Homo sapiens: one gene and its partners. The protein of the gene in region 2 interacts with the protein of the main gene of each other region in a pairwise test. Each region holds a gene or a part of one and is shown on either strand. Other genes may lie near its edges.

The links.
Region 1: the proteins of SGTA (region 2) and NRSN2 interact in binary tests that used the Homo sapiens proteins (3 or more experiments, as listed by UniProt).
Region 3: the proteins of SGTA (region 2) and ERP29 interact in binary tests that used the Homo sapiens proteins (3 or more experiments, as listed by UniProt).
Region 4: the proteins of SGTA (region 2) and NAXD interact in binary tests that used the Homo sapiens proteins (3 or more experiments, as listed by UniProt).

What each region holds. Positions count from the first base shown.
Region 1 is NC_000020.11:345,629-349,910, forward strand, and holds the start of NRSN2 (neurensin-2), read left to right. Parts: upstream 1-1,482; 5' UTR 1,483-1,514; intron 1,515-1,790; coding exon of another isoform or gene 1,791-2,386; exon of another isoform or gene 2,387-2,435; intron 2,436-2,471; coding exon of another isoform or gene 2,472-2,757; intron 2,758-3,044; coding exon of another isoform or gene 3,045-3,062; intron 3,063-3,607; exon of another isoform or gene 3,608-3,620; 5' UTR 3,621-3,735; intron 3,736-3,987; exon of another isoform or gene 3,988-4,009; 5' UTR 4,010-4,015; coding exon 4,016-4,204; intron 4,205-4,282. Other genes in the region: serine/arginine repetitive matrix protein 2-like, read right to left, coding at 1,040-1,363, 1,791-2,386, 2,472-2,757, 3,045-3,062. UniProt on the Homo sapiens protein: May play a role in maintenance and/or transport of vesicles.
Region 2 is NC_000019.10:2,759,274-2,762,773, forward strand, and holds part of SGTA (small glutamine-rich tetratricopeptide repeat-containing protein alpha), read right to left. Parts: intron 3,372-3,500; coding exon 3,233-3,371; intron 2,250-3,232; coding exon 2,187-2,249; intron 22-2,186; coding exon 1-21. UniProt on the Homo sapiens protein: Co-chaperone that binds misfolded and hydrophobic patches-containing client proteins in the cytosol. Mediates their targeting to the endoplasmic reticulum but also regulates their sorting to the proteasome when targeting fails.
Region 3 is NC_000012.12:112,019,926-112,023,425, reverse strand, and holds part of ERP29 (endoplasmic reticulum resident protein 29 isoform 1 precursor), read right to left. Parts: intron 2,851-3,500; exon of another isoform or gene 1,277-2,850; coding exon 774-1,276; 3' UTR 1-773. UniProt on the Homo sapiens protein: Does not seem to be a disulfide isomerase. Plays an important role in the processing of secretory proteins within the endoplasmic reticulum (ER), possibly by participating in the folding of proteins in the ER.
Region 4 is NC_000013.11:110,618,545-110,622,044, forward strand, and holds part of NAXD (ATP-dependent (S)-NAD(P)H-hydrate dehydratase), read left to right. Parts: intron 1-3,500. UniProt on the Homo sapiens protein: Catalyzes the dehydration of the S-form of NAD(P)HX at the expense of ATP, which is converted to ADP.

The DNA of each region.
Region 1 (4,282 bases), on a different chromosome or scaffold from region 2:
CCATCACACACACACACATACACACACACACACACACTTAAATGAGTAAGTAAATAGAACATACAAAACGCTTAAACACTTTGCACATAGTGAGCATAATAAGTTTGCTACTATTATTAGACTGTCTTCAGTAAATATTTACTGGGCTGCCTACTCAGTGCCAAGCACTATGGGAGGCTCACAGATACAACACGAACAAGAAATATGTGGCCTTGGCCAGACGCGGTGGCTCACGCTTACAATCCCAGCACTTTGGGAGGCCGAGGCAGGTGGATCACTTGAGCTCAGGAGTTCAAGACCAGCCTGGGCATCATGGCAAAACCCTGTCTCTATTAAAAATACAAAAAATTAGCTAGGCATGGTAGTGCGTGCCTGTAGTCCCAGCTCCTCAGGCGACTGAGGTGGGAGGATCACCTGAGCCTTGGGAGATCGAGGCTGCAGTGAGCCGTGATCATGCCACCGCACTCCAGCCTGGACAACAGAGTGAGACGCTGTCTCAAAAAAATAAAAATTAAAAAAAAAGAAAAAGAAAAACTAAAAAGGAAGATGTGGCCCTATCTTGCCGAGCTCATTCTTCTGTGTGTCCCCAGCCCCTAGCACAAGGAGAAACAGAATAGATGCTCAAGACACAAAGGCATGTCTGTGCAAGGGTGCTTGATGACGGTTGGAGGGGCACAATGACTTTCCCAAGATCACACAGCAAATGTGGGACAAAATCAAGGCTGACAGCTCATGACAGGGTGGGAGGCAGATGCAGCTGCCTGGCACAGGCTGGCTCTCCAGGGAGATGGGCAGTGGGCACGCATTGCCCAGGGCAGAACTGGGGCTAGGGGAGGAAACAACAAGGGAGGCTGTCATTAGCTCCTTCCAAAGTGGAGGTCACTTCTCTCCCAACCCCGAGTCCTCCACCCAAACTCCCTTCTCAAGGTACAAGGGCTGATCCCGTACCAGGGATGGGTAGGGACTCAAAGAGGAAAAGAGGATGAAAAGAGGATGGGGACTGAGTGAGATGTGAGGACTCCAGAGGGATTAGCGGCTCTCAAGGCAAGTGGGAGGGGACTTCCCGGTAGGAGCCCGGAGACAGATGGGAGCCTGTGAAGAGGGCGGGGGCCCGGCGAGGAGAAGCGGTTTCTACGCTGGGGTGGGGCTCCATGAGGGGGATGGAGACCTGGAAAAGGGACTGACGGTGCAGCGAGGAGAGGAAGGCTCGGTTAAGGGATGGGTCTTCCACGGGAGGGGTGGGGAACTGCGGGAGTGACGGCAGCTTCGGTGAGGAGTCTGAGGGGCTGCGTGAGGGGCTGGGGCCCAGGGAGTCCGAGGGGTCTCTGTGAGGGCGCTGGGGTGTCCGAGCGAGCAGGGAACTCTGGAAGGGGACAGGAGCCGGGGGAGCTGCAGGCGGCCGCCGTCTGCAGAGCCAGGCCCTGAGGCGGGCCGGCGCCCCCTCCCCCGCCCCGAACTGCGGCGCAGGCGCGAACCGGACCCGCCTTTGCTCGGCGGAGACAGCAGGCAGAGAGGTGAGCTTAGCCCTGCCCCACGCGCGGCCAGGCCCCAGCCCCAGCCCCTGGAGAACCCCCGCGCTCTGCCCGCATCCTCAGCCCGGGCCGTGTCCCGCCAGGGCCGGGACCTTTGCGCCTGAGCCTCGGCTTTGGGAGGTGGGGGTCCCAGGGAAGCAGCAGGGGCGGGAGACAGAAACAGCCCCATCGCCCCTCGACGCCTCAGGGTTGATAGGCTGGGTAGAGGCTTCAAAGGACACCCCCACCCCCGCCAACACTTCAAAAACCCATTCCTACCCCTCTCTGCCTCAGTTTCTCTCTAGGGAAAAGGACGCAGTTGGTGTGGAGCAGGGCATCGGTGGTCCTGTCAGGAAGAGTGGCGCGGGTGCCGGTGGGGAAGGGAGGCGGGAAATGGCCTGATTTCCCCGGCCGACACCCCCTACCCATCCCCCCCGGGAGGGCGCCCCTTCTCCCCCGCCCGGGCAGCGCTGGACGCTGTAGTGGGCGAGTCTGAGGGTCTGGGAAGGACACAACTGAATGAGGCTGTGCAGAGGCGACAGATTCCGTCCATCTTCGGGCCCTGGCTTCCGTCACTTCCGCCCGTGCCTGCCGCCCCTCGCCTCCTCCCTCCGCCGCAGTCTCCCCACGTCGGACAGCGCAGCCCCCTCCGCCTCCCGCTCCCCTCCCACCGAGCTCCTCCCGGCTCCCGGGCTGGGGACGCCTCCCTAGCGGTTCCCATGGCAACCCTCGTCCCGGGTGCCTGCGCCCCGCCCCCCGCCCGCCAGACCTACTCCGTGCAGCCCTGAAACGCCAGGCGGAGGGGCCAGGCCGAGCGGGAGGCAGCGTCAAGGTCACCTTCCCTCTCCAGTAGCAGCAGGACTGAGTGATTCCATCTATTTGGAGTCGCGGAAGCGGTGAATTGGAGGGGAGGAGCTGACCCAGGTCAACAGCCCCGAAGCCCCCTCCACACCTCCTCACCTGTGGCCTTGAACAGTGGTCTCCGCACGGAGGCTCCTACCGTCCCCCAGGCCCCATTTCTTCTCCCCACCCGGGCCTCCCCAGCGCCTCGCCGGGGCGGGTACCGCGCTGGCCGCACCCTCCGCACAGCCCGCCCCGCCCGCCTCCTCCGGCGAGCCCTCCTCTCCAGACCTCTCGCCCTCCTCCTCCGACGGTCCTTCGCTTTCAGTCTCTGCCTTTTCCCGTTCTCTGTCGTGGCTTTTGTTGTTGTTGTTTTTCCTCCTTTCCTTCCCCGCTCTTCTTTTCCCTGAATTGTAAGTGAGGAGGGTGTACAGCCACTATTTATGGACAGGCTTTCTTGACAGCAATCTTGTGTGCCGTGTGACTCCAAGCAGAACCTCCAACCGTGTGTGTGTGTGTGTGTGTGTGTGTGTGTGTGTGTGTGTGTGTCGTACCTATCTGGGTATGTCTCTGTATGCTTTGTGAGTATGTCTGTGTGTTTCTCTGTGCTGTTTCGGTGAGTTTCTCTATGCAGGGATTTGAGGACCACATCTGATTGGAAGTGAGGGGCAGCTGTCAGGACCTTTATCTTACCCTTTGGAACAAGCACATTGTTTCATTTTGCAGGAGGCTGCTAATTAAGGCTGAGGGCCATCATGGAGACTGGGGTAGAAGCCCAGTCCTCCCCCAACACCTCCTGGCTTTGGTTCGGGCCAAACCTGTATATGGATATACAAGTACCTTCCATTCCCAAGATCCGTGTCCACTTTTGTGGAAAAAAAAAAAAAGGTTATTTGATAGGTTTCTCTGGAAATCTAACAGCCCTTAAGCCTAAGAGTCTTTAATCCTGAGGGACCCTGACTTTCACTTCCAATGGAGTCAAAATTCATTGGAATCTGGAGGCTTTCAGGGGCAGTCCTGGGGAGGACCTTTTTATAGCCTTGCAGCTTGGGAACTCCAGCCCAAGTGTCAGCCATGACAATTACCCCCAGGAGGGGGTCTGAAGGGGAGCGGAGGGTGAGGCTCTCTCATTCCAGATATGGAGACTAAAAAGTTCAAGATGGAAGTAATAGCAAAAAAATTACAGTACTAATCACAACAGCTACCATTTCTCAGCATTAGACACAGTAACTGTATGAAAGAAGTATGATTATTAGGTCTGTTTTACAGATGAGGAAACTGAGACCCAGAAAGGTGGAAGCACTTGTCTAAGGTCACGCCTCCAGGAAGCAGTGTGTCCACGACTCCAGTCCAAGTGGTCAGGCTCCAGAGCCCACAGTCCCAGGTACTGGGTGGCCTCCAGAGTAAACATGCACATTTATTGACACCTCCAATTGCCAGGCACTGGGCTAAGGCCTTCAGTGCATTGGCTCATTCGCAGTGTGCTTTGGGAAGGACAGGCTGGGATTCCAAAAGGCCAGACTGTGCTATGCGTGTAGGGTGTCTCGAGTGGGAGGAGAAGCGGGTGGGGCACAAAGATTTAGGGGGCTTATGAAGGTCACCATGAGCAGCTCCCACTAATCCCTCCCTCCGTCAGCTGCACCTTACCTGCTCCCCAGGGGTCCATGATGCCGAGCTGCAATCGTTCCTGCAGCTGCAGCCGCGGCCCCAGCGTGGAGGATGGCAAGTGGTATGGGGTCCGCTCCTACCTGCACCTCTTCTATGAGGACTGTGCAGGCACTGCTCTCAGCGACGACCCTGAGGGACCTCCGGTCCTGTGCCCCCGCCGGCCCTGGCCCTCACTGTGTTGGAAGGTAAGGCCAGATGAGCACCTCCCATGATTCCTCTGCCTTGATGGAGGAAATGAGTCTGAATTTGAGGCTCAGAGGAAA
Region 2 (3,500 bases):
ATTGTTCATTAGGTTCGAAGCCTGAAGAACAGAACAAATTTGTCAGGAAGACAAAGCTCCCAGCGCATCATTCTCTTTCATCAGACACTTTCCATCTTAACCAGCCTTGGTTCTGGACTCCAGCACGCCAACCAACAGTAAGAGCCGGGCATTCGGTCTTTCATACCCTTTTCCCTACATTTTCGCCCCCCCACCCACGAGCTGTGACCTCCACATTGTGACTTAAATCCTGTTTTGGGTTCCTGCTTCAGGAGCGATCTCGCAGCGCCACAGCGCTCTCTCACTGGCTGCTGCGGTTTTGCTGTGTGGAGGCGTTTTGGTTCTTTATTTTAGCTGCTGTCTGCTTTAGCATATTTCATTTAGCATATTTGGTTCCAGTTTTGCTCTATCAATAAATAGCACTGTGGCTGGGCGCGGTGGTTCACGCCTGGAATCCCAGCACTTTAGGAGGCCGAGGCAGGCAGATCGCTTGAGGTCAGGAGTTCGAGACCAGCCTAACCAACATGGTGAAACCCCGTCTCTACTAAAAATATGAAATTAGCCAGGTGTGGTGGTGCATGCCTGTAGTCCCAGCTACTTGGGAAACTGAGGCACAAGAATCGCCTGAACCTGGGAGGGGGAGGTTGCAGTGAGCCGAGATCACACCGCTGCACTCCAGCCTGGGTGACAGAGTGAGACTCTGTCTCAAAAAAGAAGTAAAAATAAATAAATAAATAAATAGCACTATACTGGGCACTTTCTCATGTTAACTTTCCACTTGGGATTATTCCTTTGGACCTGTTGAAAGGAGGTGGCTCAGAGGTGTGGCAAACTCTCTGTGTAAAGGGCCAGTGTGTAAATACTCTCAGCCTTTTCAGACACGGGTGCCTGACGCAACTACTCAGCTCTGCCGCCGTATCATGAAAGCCACCAGTGACACTAGGTGTATGAATGGGCATGGCTGTGTGCCAATAAAACTTTATTGGTCAGGTGTAGTGGCTCACACCTGTAATCCCAGCACTTTGGGGGGCCGAGGCGGGTGGATCACAAGGTCAGGAGTTCGAGACCAGCCTGGCAAACATGGTGAAACCCCATTTCTATTAAAAAATACCAAAATTAGCCAGGCATGGTGGTGGGCACCTGTAATCCCAGCTACTCGGGAGGCTGACGCAGGAGAATCGCTTGAACCTGGGAGGCGGAGGTTGCAGTGAGCTGAGATCACACCACTGCACTCCAACCTGGGCGACAGAGCGAGACTCCATCTCAAAAAAAAAAAAAAAAAAAAAAACCAAAAAAAACTTTATTAACAAAACCCAGCGGCGGGCCTTATTCTGCCAACCCCAGATGTCTGAAGGGAAAAGGCGTCTGTGACATGGCCAAGCTGAGAGGCCCCTTGAAAGACTGGGGCCCAGTCACCCTCCATCCCATGGTGAGGGAGAACATATTCCCCTGGCAGCTTGGCCAGCGGACGAGGGCTACAGTAAGAGGTGTGGCCTCTGCTGAATGGCACGACCCGGGCAGGGCTCCTGGCCCAGCTGGCTCATTTTTCTGACTGACAGTGAGACTGAGGGCTTTTCTCCCCGACAGCCTTAGGCGAGTCCCTGTACCCTGAGGCTGTGGGAGCCTGAAGAGTGGTCCCAGGGCACACAGACCTCCCAGGAAATGAACATGTGTGTGTGGGGGATGGCTCTCCGAGGATCCCAGTCAAGGAACTCCCTGCCAAAGGCCGTCCCTTTGGAAGCATGAGTGCCCGGGCATCGGGAGGTCCACCTGCGCCCGGCGCACCCGGCGCTCTGCTTCCCTTGCCTGAACCTTAGGAGGCAGACGCTGCTGTGTTGTGATCAGTGTCTCTGCACTGCGAGGAGGAGCCCACGCCAGGGTGGGGTGGGGGTGTGACCTCCCTGGGCTCAGCCAGGAGAGCCAGCTTTTGGTGCTCACTACTGATGGGTCTTGCTTGGGACATCAACATTGGGGACACTTTTGATTGTCGAAGCAGAGGGTGGGGGTGCTCCTGACATGGGGCGGGTGAGGCCAGGGGTGCTGCCAGCGCCCTGCGGTGCCCAGGACGACCCCACAGACAAGACCCATCTGGTTCCAGAAGCCAGCAGTGCCAAGGCAAGGAAGCCCTGGCCAGTAGCGGACACAGCAGATGCGGGCCTGGGGGGTGGCGCAGACACCATGGACAGGGAGGAGGGGCGGGCCGTTACCATGCTCATGAAGCCAGGGTTGTTCAGCAGGCCGGCGATGTCGAAGCTGCCCACGCCTCCCGTCTGAGGATGAGAACAGCCCTGGTTAGTGGGGCCTGGACCAGAGGCCACGGTGAATAACCCCCTGGAACTCAGAAACAACGGCCCCCCACGGGGCTCAGACATTCTATCAACCCTGCGGCCAGAGGGTGCTTTGAGGCAGGCAGCACGAAGCACATCGCAACCGCCCGGGGACGGCACAGTCTGTCATCCCGTGTTTATTCCCCGCACAGCGCGACCGCCCGGGGACGGCACAGTCTATCATCCCGTGTTTATTCCCCGCACAGCGCGACCGCCCGGGGACGGCACAGTCTATCATCCCGTGTTTATTCCCCGCACAGCGCGACCGCCCGGGGACGGCACAGTCTATCATCCCGTGTTTATTCCCCGTACAGCGCGACCGCCCGGGGACGGCACAGTCTATCATCCCGTGTTGATTTCCTGTATTCTGCCGCTTTGACACCTTGGGGCCTTGCTGGCCTGGCAGAGCCGCCCCCTCCTGGAGTAGCCAATTCCCAGAGAAAGCAAATGACTCACCCAGAAACGCACCTTTGAAATACAAACAAACTAACCCAGAACCCACACCCTCAGCACCTCCCCCATCACCCCAGGGCCACAGTCCACCTGCCCCACTCACCCCCAGGCCAGGGACCAGGCAACCAGGGGCAGCCCCCAGGCCTGGGTCTAATGAAATGGCTCCAACCAGCCAACCCGAAGCCTCCTCACCCGGCCTCGCCACAAAACCCACATCGAGGGTCCTTTCTGTGCCCCTCCCTCAGCCTCCGCGGGCAGCCCTGCGGCCGGCCTCCTGCTTCCAGGGGTCTGGGGGCATGAACCTTCTCACGACACTCACTTCCACGCCTGTGCATCTCACCACCAACTGAAACAAACCCCGGACCCTCACGACACCCAGGTTAAGCCTAGAGCCACTGGTGCGCCCGAGGACCTGTCCCCCACCCACACAGTCAGCTCGGCGTTCTGGAGCCACTCGCCCCCGCTGCACTCACGGGGCTGGGGGCCTCCCGCAGCTTCAGCTCCGCTATCTTGAGGTTGGACTTGTATGTCTCGTTGTCGGGGTCCAGCTCCAGAGCCTTCTTGTAGTAAGCCACGGCCTCCACGTGCTTGTTGAGGCTGGAGAGCGCCAGGCTGGAGGAGAGCACCGGGGATGGACTGTTCCCATCTGCCCAGCTCCAGGAGGCCCCGCCAAAGCCCTCGTCCCCGGCGGTCCTGGCAACCCCCAAACCACCTCGGATGGTGCCACCCCCTGCCCGCTGT
Region 3 (3,500 bases), on a different chromosome or scaffold from region 2:
TGCTTTCTAGAAGTTAGTATTTATTTAGTGATAGTGATTTAGATGGAAAATATTTTTTAATTTTGAAATCGGACTATATCATTTAGCTGTGTAAATCCAAGTCACAGAATATATCAGTAAAACTAAGAATTTGCTATGTGTACCTCACAAAGCATGGAAAATAATTACACCATGGTCCATCAATGTTGGTTCAATATATTCATCAATACTGCTATTGAGTTTTAAGGACTGGAAAATAGACAAACTTTACCATTGACAGTCAATCCATGTCAGTCTGAATATCACTGGAAAATAACAAAGGTATGCCAGTTTCCACAGTGTTATGAGGATAGTTTGTTACCCTGGGAAAGTGGAGTCTATACCAGCTTAGATTCAAAGAGGAAAGCAGGTCATAGACGAAAGTATAATTTGAAAAGAAAAAAGAATGGCTTCAGGTCCACTTAACCAAAACACTGAAACTTTAATTGAATGAGAATTACATCTGTCAAAGACCTGGGCAGTACACTCCTCTCTCCTCTCTATAGCACTCATTCCTTCTGAGGTGTCATTTCACCAGCCACCTGAGTAAGTGCTCCAGCTATCCCCAGACCAGCTAGAGACATCCCAAGCATGGTCATGTTAGCATCAATGTCCAGGCATACTCAGGGCTCAGAATCGTGGGTTAGTACCACTTTTCCCACTACCCCCTTATATTCCACAAGGGACTCACAGCCAGCAGGTTAACTCTCCCCTCCCTACCCCCACCAAACCCTGGAAAATCACAGACAGCCTTTTTACAGCTCCTCTTTCTCGGCCCCCTTCTTCTGGAAGGCAGTCAGGATGTTTAAGCTCTTCTGGAGCTCCTCCTTCTTCCCGTCACTCATCTTGTTCTTCTCAATCAGCCTGGCGATCCGTGTCATCTCTGATGCTGGGAAGTCCTCCCCTTGGTCTAAGATCTTCCCCATGATCTTCAGGTATTGCTCGGCCCACTTCTTCTGAGTCTCCTTCACACTTGAGAGGTTATCTTGCCCCTGCTTCAAGAGGGCCTGGCGGGCCTCCACACCAGAGGCCCTGATGAACTCCCCGGCCAGGGCGTCGTATACAGGCAGGCAACCAGGCATACCTAGGTAGACCCCTTGCCCCTTCAGCCAGCGCTGGATGGCTCCAACCTTAACTGCCCCAGTGTATGGGACTGGGTTCTCAAAGTCCCCATCCCGGAAGAGGTAGAAGACTGGGTAGCTCTCTTTGTCCAGCTTGTATTTCTCACTCAGCTCCATGTTCAGCTTGTCACCATAATCTGTGAGCAGAAACCAGACACAAAAAGCAAGACCATAAGGAACTCAGGGCAGAAAATTGCTATGGGACCTAGCTGAACTGAGGGAAAGAAGAATTTTCTTGGCCGTGTAATGGTTCAAAGTGAGGAGCAACCATACAGACCTGTGTTTGAATTCCTCCTCTGCCACTTCCTAGCCATGCAGCACTAGGCAAATCATTTAAACTCTCTGAACTGTTCTTCATCTGAAAAAATGGAGATTCTTCTGAATATTTATTATATGCCCACTATGTGTCAGATGCTGTTCTAGGTGCTGGGGGTCTACTTGTGATTAAGAGTATTAAGCTCGGACGGGTGCGGTGGCTCATGCCTGTAATCCCAGCACTTTGGGAGGCCGAGGCGGACAGATCACGAGGTCAGGAGTTCAAGACCAGCCTGGCCAACATAGTGAAACCGCTGTCTCTGCTAAAAATAACAAAAAAATTAGCAGGGCATGGTGGCGCGTGCCTGTAGTCCCAGCTACTCAAGAGGCTGAGGCAGAAGAATCGCTTGAACCCAGGAGGTGGAGGTTGCAGTGATCCGAGATCCCACCACCGCACTCCAGCTTGGGCAACAGAGTGAGACTTTGTCTCAAAAAAAAAAAAAAAAAAAAAAAAAAGACTATTAAGCTCATATTCTTCTAAGGGAGAGAAGAGACATAACAAACACATAAACACAGGTGATGAATGCCACAGGGAAAACAAAACAGCGCGATGTGACAAAGTGGGTAAGAAAGCCCACTTCAGGTGGTCAAGGCAGGCCTCCCTGTGAAGGTGACATCAGCTAAAGGACCTGAATGTCCTGGAGCAAGCTACGTGAAGATTTGGGAAGAGTGTCTCAGGCAGAAAGGACTGCAAGTGCAAAAGCTCTGAGGCAGGGCTAAGCTCAGGAAATTTCAGGATTACAAAGACCAGTCTGGCTGGAGCTGGGTGAGAAAGGGGAGCATGTGGTAGGGAAGGAACACAGTCCCTGCCACATGGGGGCTGTTGGGAGGACCGGATGAGGGAATATGTGCGTGATACTTGGCAGGGTTATATGCTTAATATGTGGTAGCTGCTGTTAGTATCTGCAACATCCTTCCTAACGAGCAGTAGCAGCCCCAAGGACTGATGCTGTGACAACTGGTTTCTTACACTTTGCCGAGAAACGGCTAAGACCAACTACTAGTAGTGGTAGTACTGGATGCCTAGGGTTCCAAACCTAGTTCTGCCACTTAACAATTCCACAATCTTGAGCAAGTTACTCTAAGCATCCATTTCTTCATTTGAAAAAATGGAGGTAATAGTACCACATGGGACTTCCTTCACAGAGCTCTTGCAAAGATGAAACACATGTAAAACACTCAGCACAGCGGCCTGGCACGCAGTAAACATCTGATAAATGTTAACTATTATTATTATTCTAATAAAAGCACCAAGGGAGTTACCTGAAGTTGAGTCAAATCTGACTGACTGTCCTGGAGAGGTGTGCCAGCTATCTCTACCCAGGACCAGACGCTCTACTAAGTTCCCAGCTTACTACGGAATGGAGGCATCCAAGCTGGGAGGGAAGTGAAATAAGTAAGCCCCTGCCTGGGACTAAACACTTAGGTGGAGCTCTGGATGAGCCACTCTATCACCCACAGTCCTTTAATCTTTGAGCTTCAGTTTTTTTTTTCCTGAAGTATAACATGGAGATAATACATCTTGCTTCTCAGGCAGAGTTCAAGTGAAGATTTAAAATGCAATGGGGGTGCAGATCTTTACCCTGTCAGCCACTAAATGCTGGTGACTATTAAAGCTGTCGCTGTGGTTGGGAGGTGCCCTTGGATTAGTGGTGGCATCAGTGCATTTGAGCTAACACCAAAACCTAACAGTTTTGGTACATAAACTGAAATGAAGACAGAAGAACTGACTATGCTGTCCCCTAGGGGACATAGCACCCCCTCTGCCCAGTGTTCCCTGCAAGGAGAGCTCAAAGTTCTCACAGTTTAATGTCAGAGAGGGGTGGAATGTGAAGGAAGAGGGGTTCCCTTCCCTTCAGGCACCTGTACAGCTGAGCTTAGATTCCATGGTCCCAAAATCTGCTCAGGTTAAGCCTACTGTGGGCAGCAGATTCCTTTAGAGACCATGAACCTGTTTACTTACACTCCTTGAGAGTGGCTCAGAAGGAAAGATGCTGGGTATTCCTGTTCCAAGTAGGGAAACGATTTCTAGCTTCCTCCCTCTCT
Region 4 (3,500 bases), on a different chromosome or scaffold from region 2:
GTTTTACACACTCAGAATTGATATTTTTGGCTTGTGGTAAATGGGACTTTAATGCTTAACCTGCTGTAGAAAAATCCGCCTTAGAAAGTGGCCCTTATTCGTATATTGTATTCGATGTTTGAGCCCCCTGATATCTTATCATTTTAACAAAGCTTACCTTGAAGTGCAGGAAAAATTGTATGTGTTCTTGTCATTATTTGAATAACAACAAAAATCAGTATTAGCTTTAAAGCCTGTAGGTTTTAAGCGTATCCTTGCCTGGACTAGCATATCTCCTCTTTCTCAACCAAAAAGATCAGAAAGGTGCTATCCCAGTACCAAAAGTACTGGGAGGACTTTCAGCAGAGTGTGACGCAGAAGGGAAGCTTTTCCGCTCTGGGGAGCAGATGCGGAGAGGACAAGCACTTGGAACACAGCATCCCTGGGAGCTCTGGTGCTGCAGTTGTGACCCCGAGGCGGCCCTGCTGTGCCCTCCTGGGAGTGCTGGGCGACACTGGTTGCAGAGGGGCATTGGTGCTCCCCTCCACCTGACAGGTGCTCCACCTGGACTCGTGGCTGCAGCTTAATTTTGTGTCAGATCCTTTCCGGTAATGTATAGGTTATTTCAACTATGAGGCAAAGTGCAAATGGGTAGTTCAGTGTGGGTTTATGGTATTTGCCCTTTTTGATATAAACATTAAATATTTCATACCTCACCTATAGTACTTTTTTTAAGACTTAAATCTGAAATTTAAGATACAGATGTTTGTAAGATATGAATCTTGGATATTGGGAGAAAGAAGCCTCCTGGAAAATATACAGTATTATCTGGTGGAACCATTTTATTCCTTTTCTTATTGTGAGAAATACACATTTATGAAGTATTACCATTTAGGAGTTGTTTTCATCAGGCAGGGTACATTGATATAAATGTTGATTTTTAACATCCGTAAGTTGAAGTCTGACTAAATTGTTTTTCTCTGTGATTTCATAAGTCACAATTTATATTTTATATGACCTTAAATATTTAATTTGAAGTACTGGTATATTTAAAGGTGCTAAAACTACACGCATGCATCTCTACTAGTGGTTCTTAACCCAGGCTCATTTTGCCCCATCCAGAAGACATTTGGGAGTGTTGAGATATTGCTGGTTGTCACCACTGGGTGCGTGTACATGCACTGCTGACTGGGTAGAAGCCGGGGATGCTGCTCAGCATCCTTCAGTGCATAGAACAGCTCCCCACGACAAAGACAGGATGCTGATCGATACCCATAAATGTCTTTTTTTTTGAGACAAGAGTCTCGCTGTGTCACCCAGGCTGGAGTGCAGTGGCATAATCTTGGCTCACTGCAGCCTCCACCTTCTGGGTTCAAACAGTTCTTCTGCCTCAGCCTCCCGAGTAGCTGGAATTACAGGCATGCACCACCGTGCCCAACTAATTTTTGTATTTTTAGTAGAGATGGGGTTTCACTATGTTGGCCAGGCTGGTCTCGAACTCCTGACCTCAAGTGATCCACCCACCTTGGCCTCCCAAAGTGCTGAGATTACAGCGGGGAGCCACTGCGCCTGGCCCCATAAATGTCTCTTCTAGACAAGTGTATTGTTTTAAAACCATAATTTAGCCCTCCTGGAGGGATTTCAAGGATGGGTGCATTGGTCCCCTGCAGGTAGCTCAGCAAGCTTCATTGTGTCTCTCCTTGGCCCACAGTTTATAGTGATTCTGTGCCGGGTCTTGTGTGTTGGTCTGGAAGAAGGTGAAAAGATTTGGGGTTGGGCTGAGCGCGGTGGCTCACACCTGTAATCCTAGCACTTTGGGAGGCCGAGGTGGGCAGATCACAAGGTCAGGAGATCGAGACCACCCTGGCCAACATGGTGAAACCCCGTCTCTGCTAAAAATACAAAAATTAGCTGGGCGTGGTGGCATGCGCCTGTAGTCCCAGCTACTCAGGAGGCTGACGCAGGAGAATTGCTTGGACCAGGGGGTCGTAGGTTGCAGTGAGCCGAGATTGTACCACTGCACTCCAGCCTGGCGACAGAGTGAGACTCTGTCTCAAAAAAAAAAAAAAAAAAGAATTTGGGTTGATGGGGATTCATAGGATCTTTTTATCTTGGGGAATCCCAGCATCTGCTCTATCAGCTAAGGCAGTTACATCTACTCATAAAGAAAATTCCTTCAAAAGTTTTGTTGAGTAAAAAGTAAAACTGTAAGAGTTAAAAGACAAAGCTCTTTTGCTGTGAAACGCTCAGTGAGCTTTGGACTGCAGTCAGTGGAACTTGTGACACTGGTTTTTCTCTGCTGCTGAGATAATTGGAAGGATAAAAATATTGAGTGCCTTGTTTGAAAAAATACTGTTTATATTTGCAAAGATCCTTTCATTCTAGGGAGAATGTATGCTTTATTCATTGAGCTCTATAGAACATACCAGCATTTCTCTCATAGCCGAGCTGTTTTAAATATTAAGGTAAAATATATAACACAGGAAGCTCTTCAAGAAAGGCCAATTGAAGTGTAGCTGTTTAGAGACAACTCAAGATGATGAAAATACATTAAATGCCACTTTGAACCCAATTTAAGAGGTGTGCCATATTTAGAATGCCATTTCTAGGTTATTTAATTAATACCCAGTTGAGTGTTGGAATACAGTTGGGAGTAATATGATGAATCTGTCAGACTTCTGAGCACCCCAGCGGATTACAGGTGGGAGCTTGCTTTCCAGTTTGTGAGGAGAGAAAAGACCTAATAATCCTAAAGGGAAATTGAAATGAAGTGATAGTTTATTAAGTAATAATGCATTTTTTTACTTGATAAAACTTTCTGGAAAATTAAATGGTCTTCCAAAATTTCAGATACATTTCAAAAATAAACCTGATAGAAATAGCATATGTTGTCCTGGTGGGGTGGCTCATGCCTGTAATCCCAGCACTTTGGGAGGCTGAGGCGGGCAGATCACTTGAGGTAAGGAGTTGGAGACCAGCCTGGCCAACATGGTGAAACCCTGTCTCTACTAAGAATACAAAAATTAGCAGGGCAGGGTGGCAGGTGCCTGTAATCCCAGATACTCCGGAGGCTGAGGCAGGAGAATCGCTTGAACCCAGGAGGTGGAGGTTGCAGTGAGCAGGATCGTGCCACTGCACTCCAGCTTGGGTGACAGAGCTAGACTCTGTCTCAAATAAATAAATAAATAGCATGTGTTACTATATGTGTTAATTACATGTGTTCAGGCTGGGCATGGTGGTTCACGCCTGTAATCCCAGCACTTTGAGAGGCTGCAGCTGGCAGATCACTTGAGGTCAGGAGTTCTAGACCAGCATGGCCAACATGATGAAACCCTATCTCTACTGAAAATACAAAAATTAGCCAGGTGTGGTAGTAGACACCTATAATCCCAGCTGCTCAGGAGGCTGAGGCAGGAGAATTGCTTGAACCTGGGAGGCAGAGGTTGCAGTGAGCTGAGATCACGCCACTGCACTCCAGCCTGGGTGACAGAGTCAGAGTTCGTCTCAAAAAAGAAAAAAAA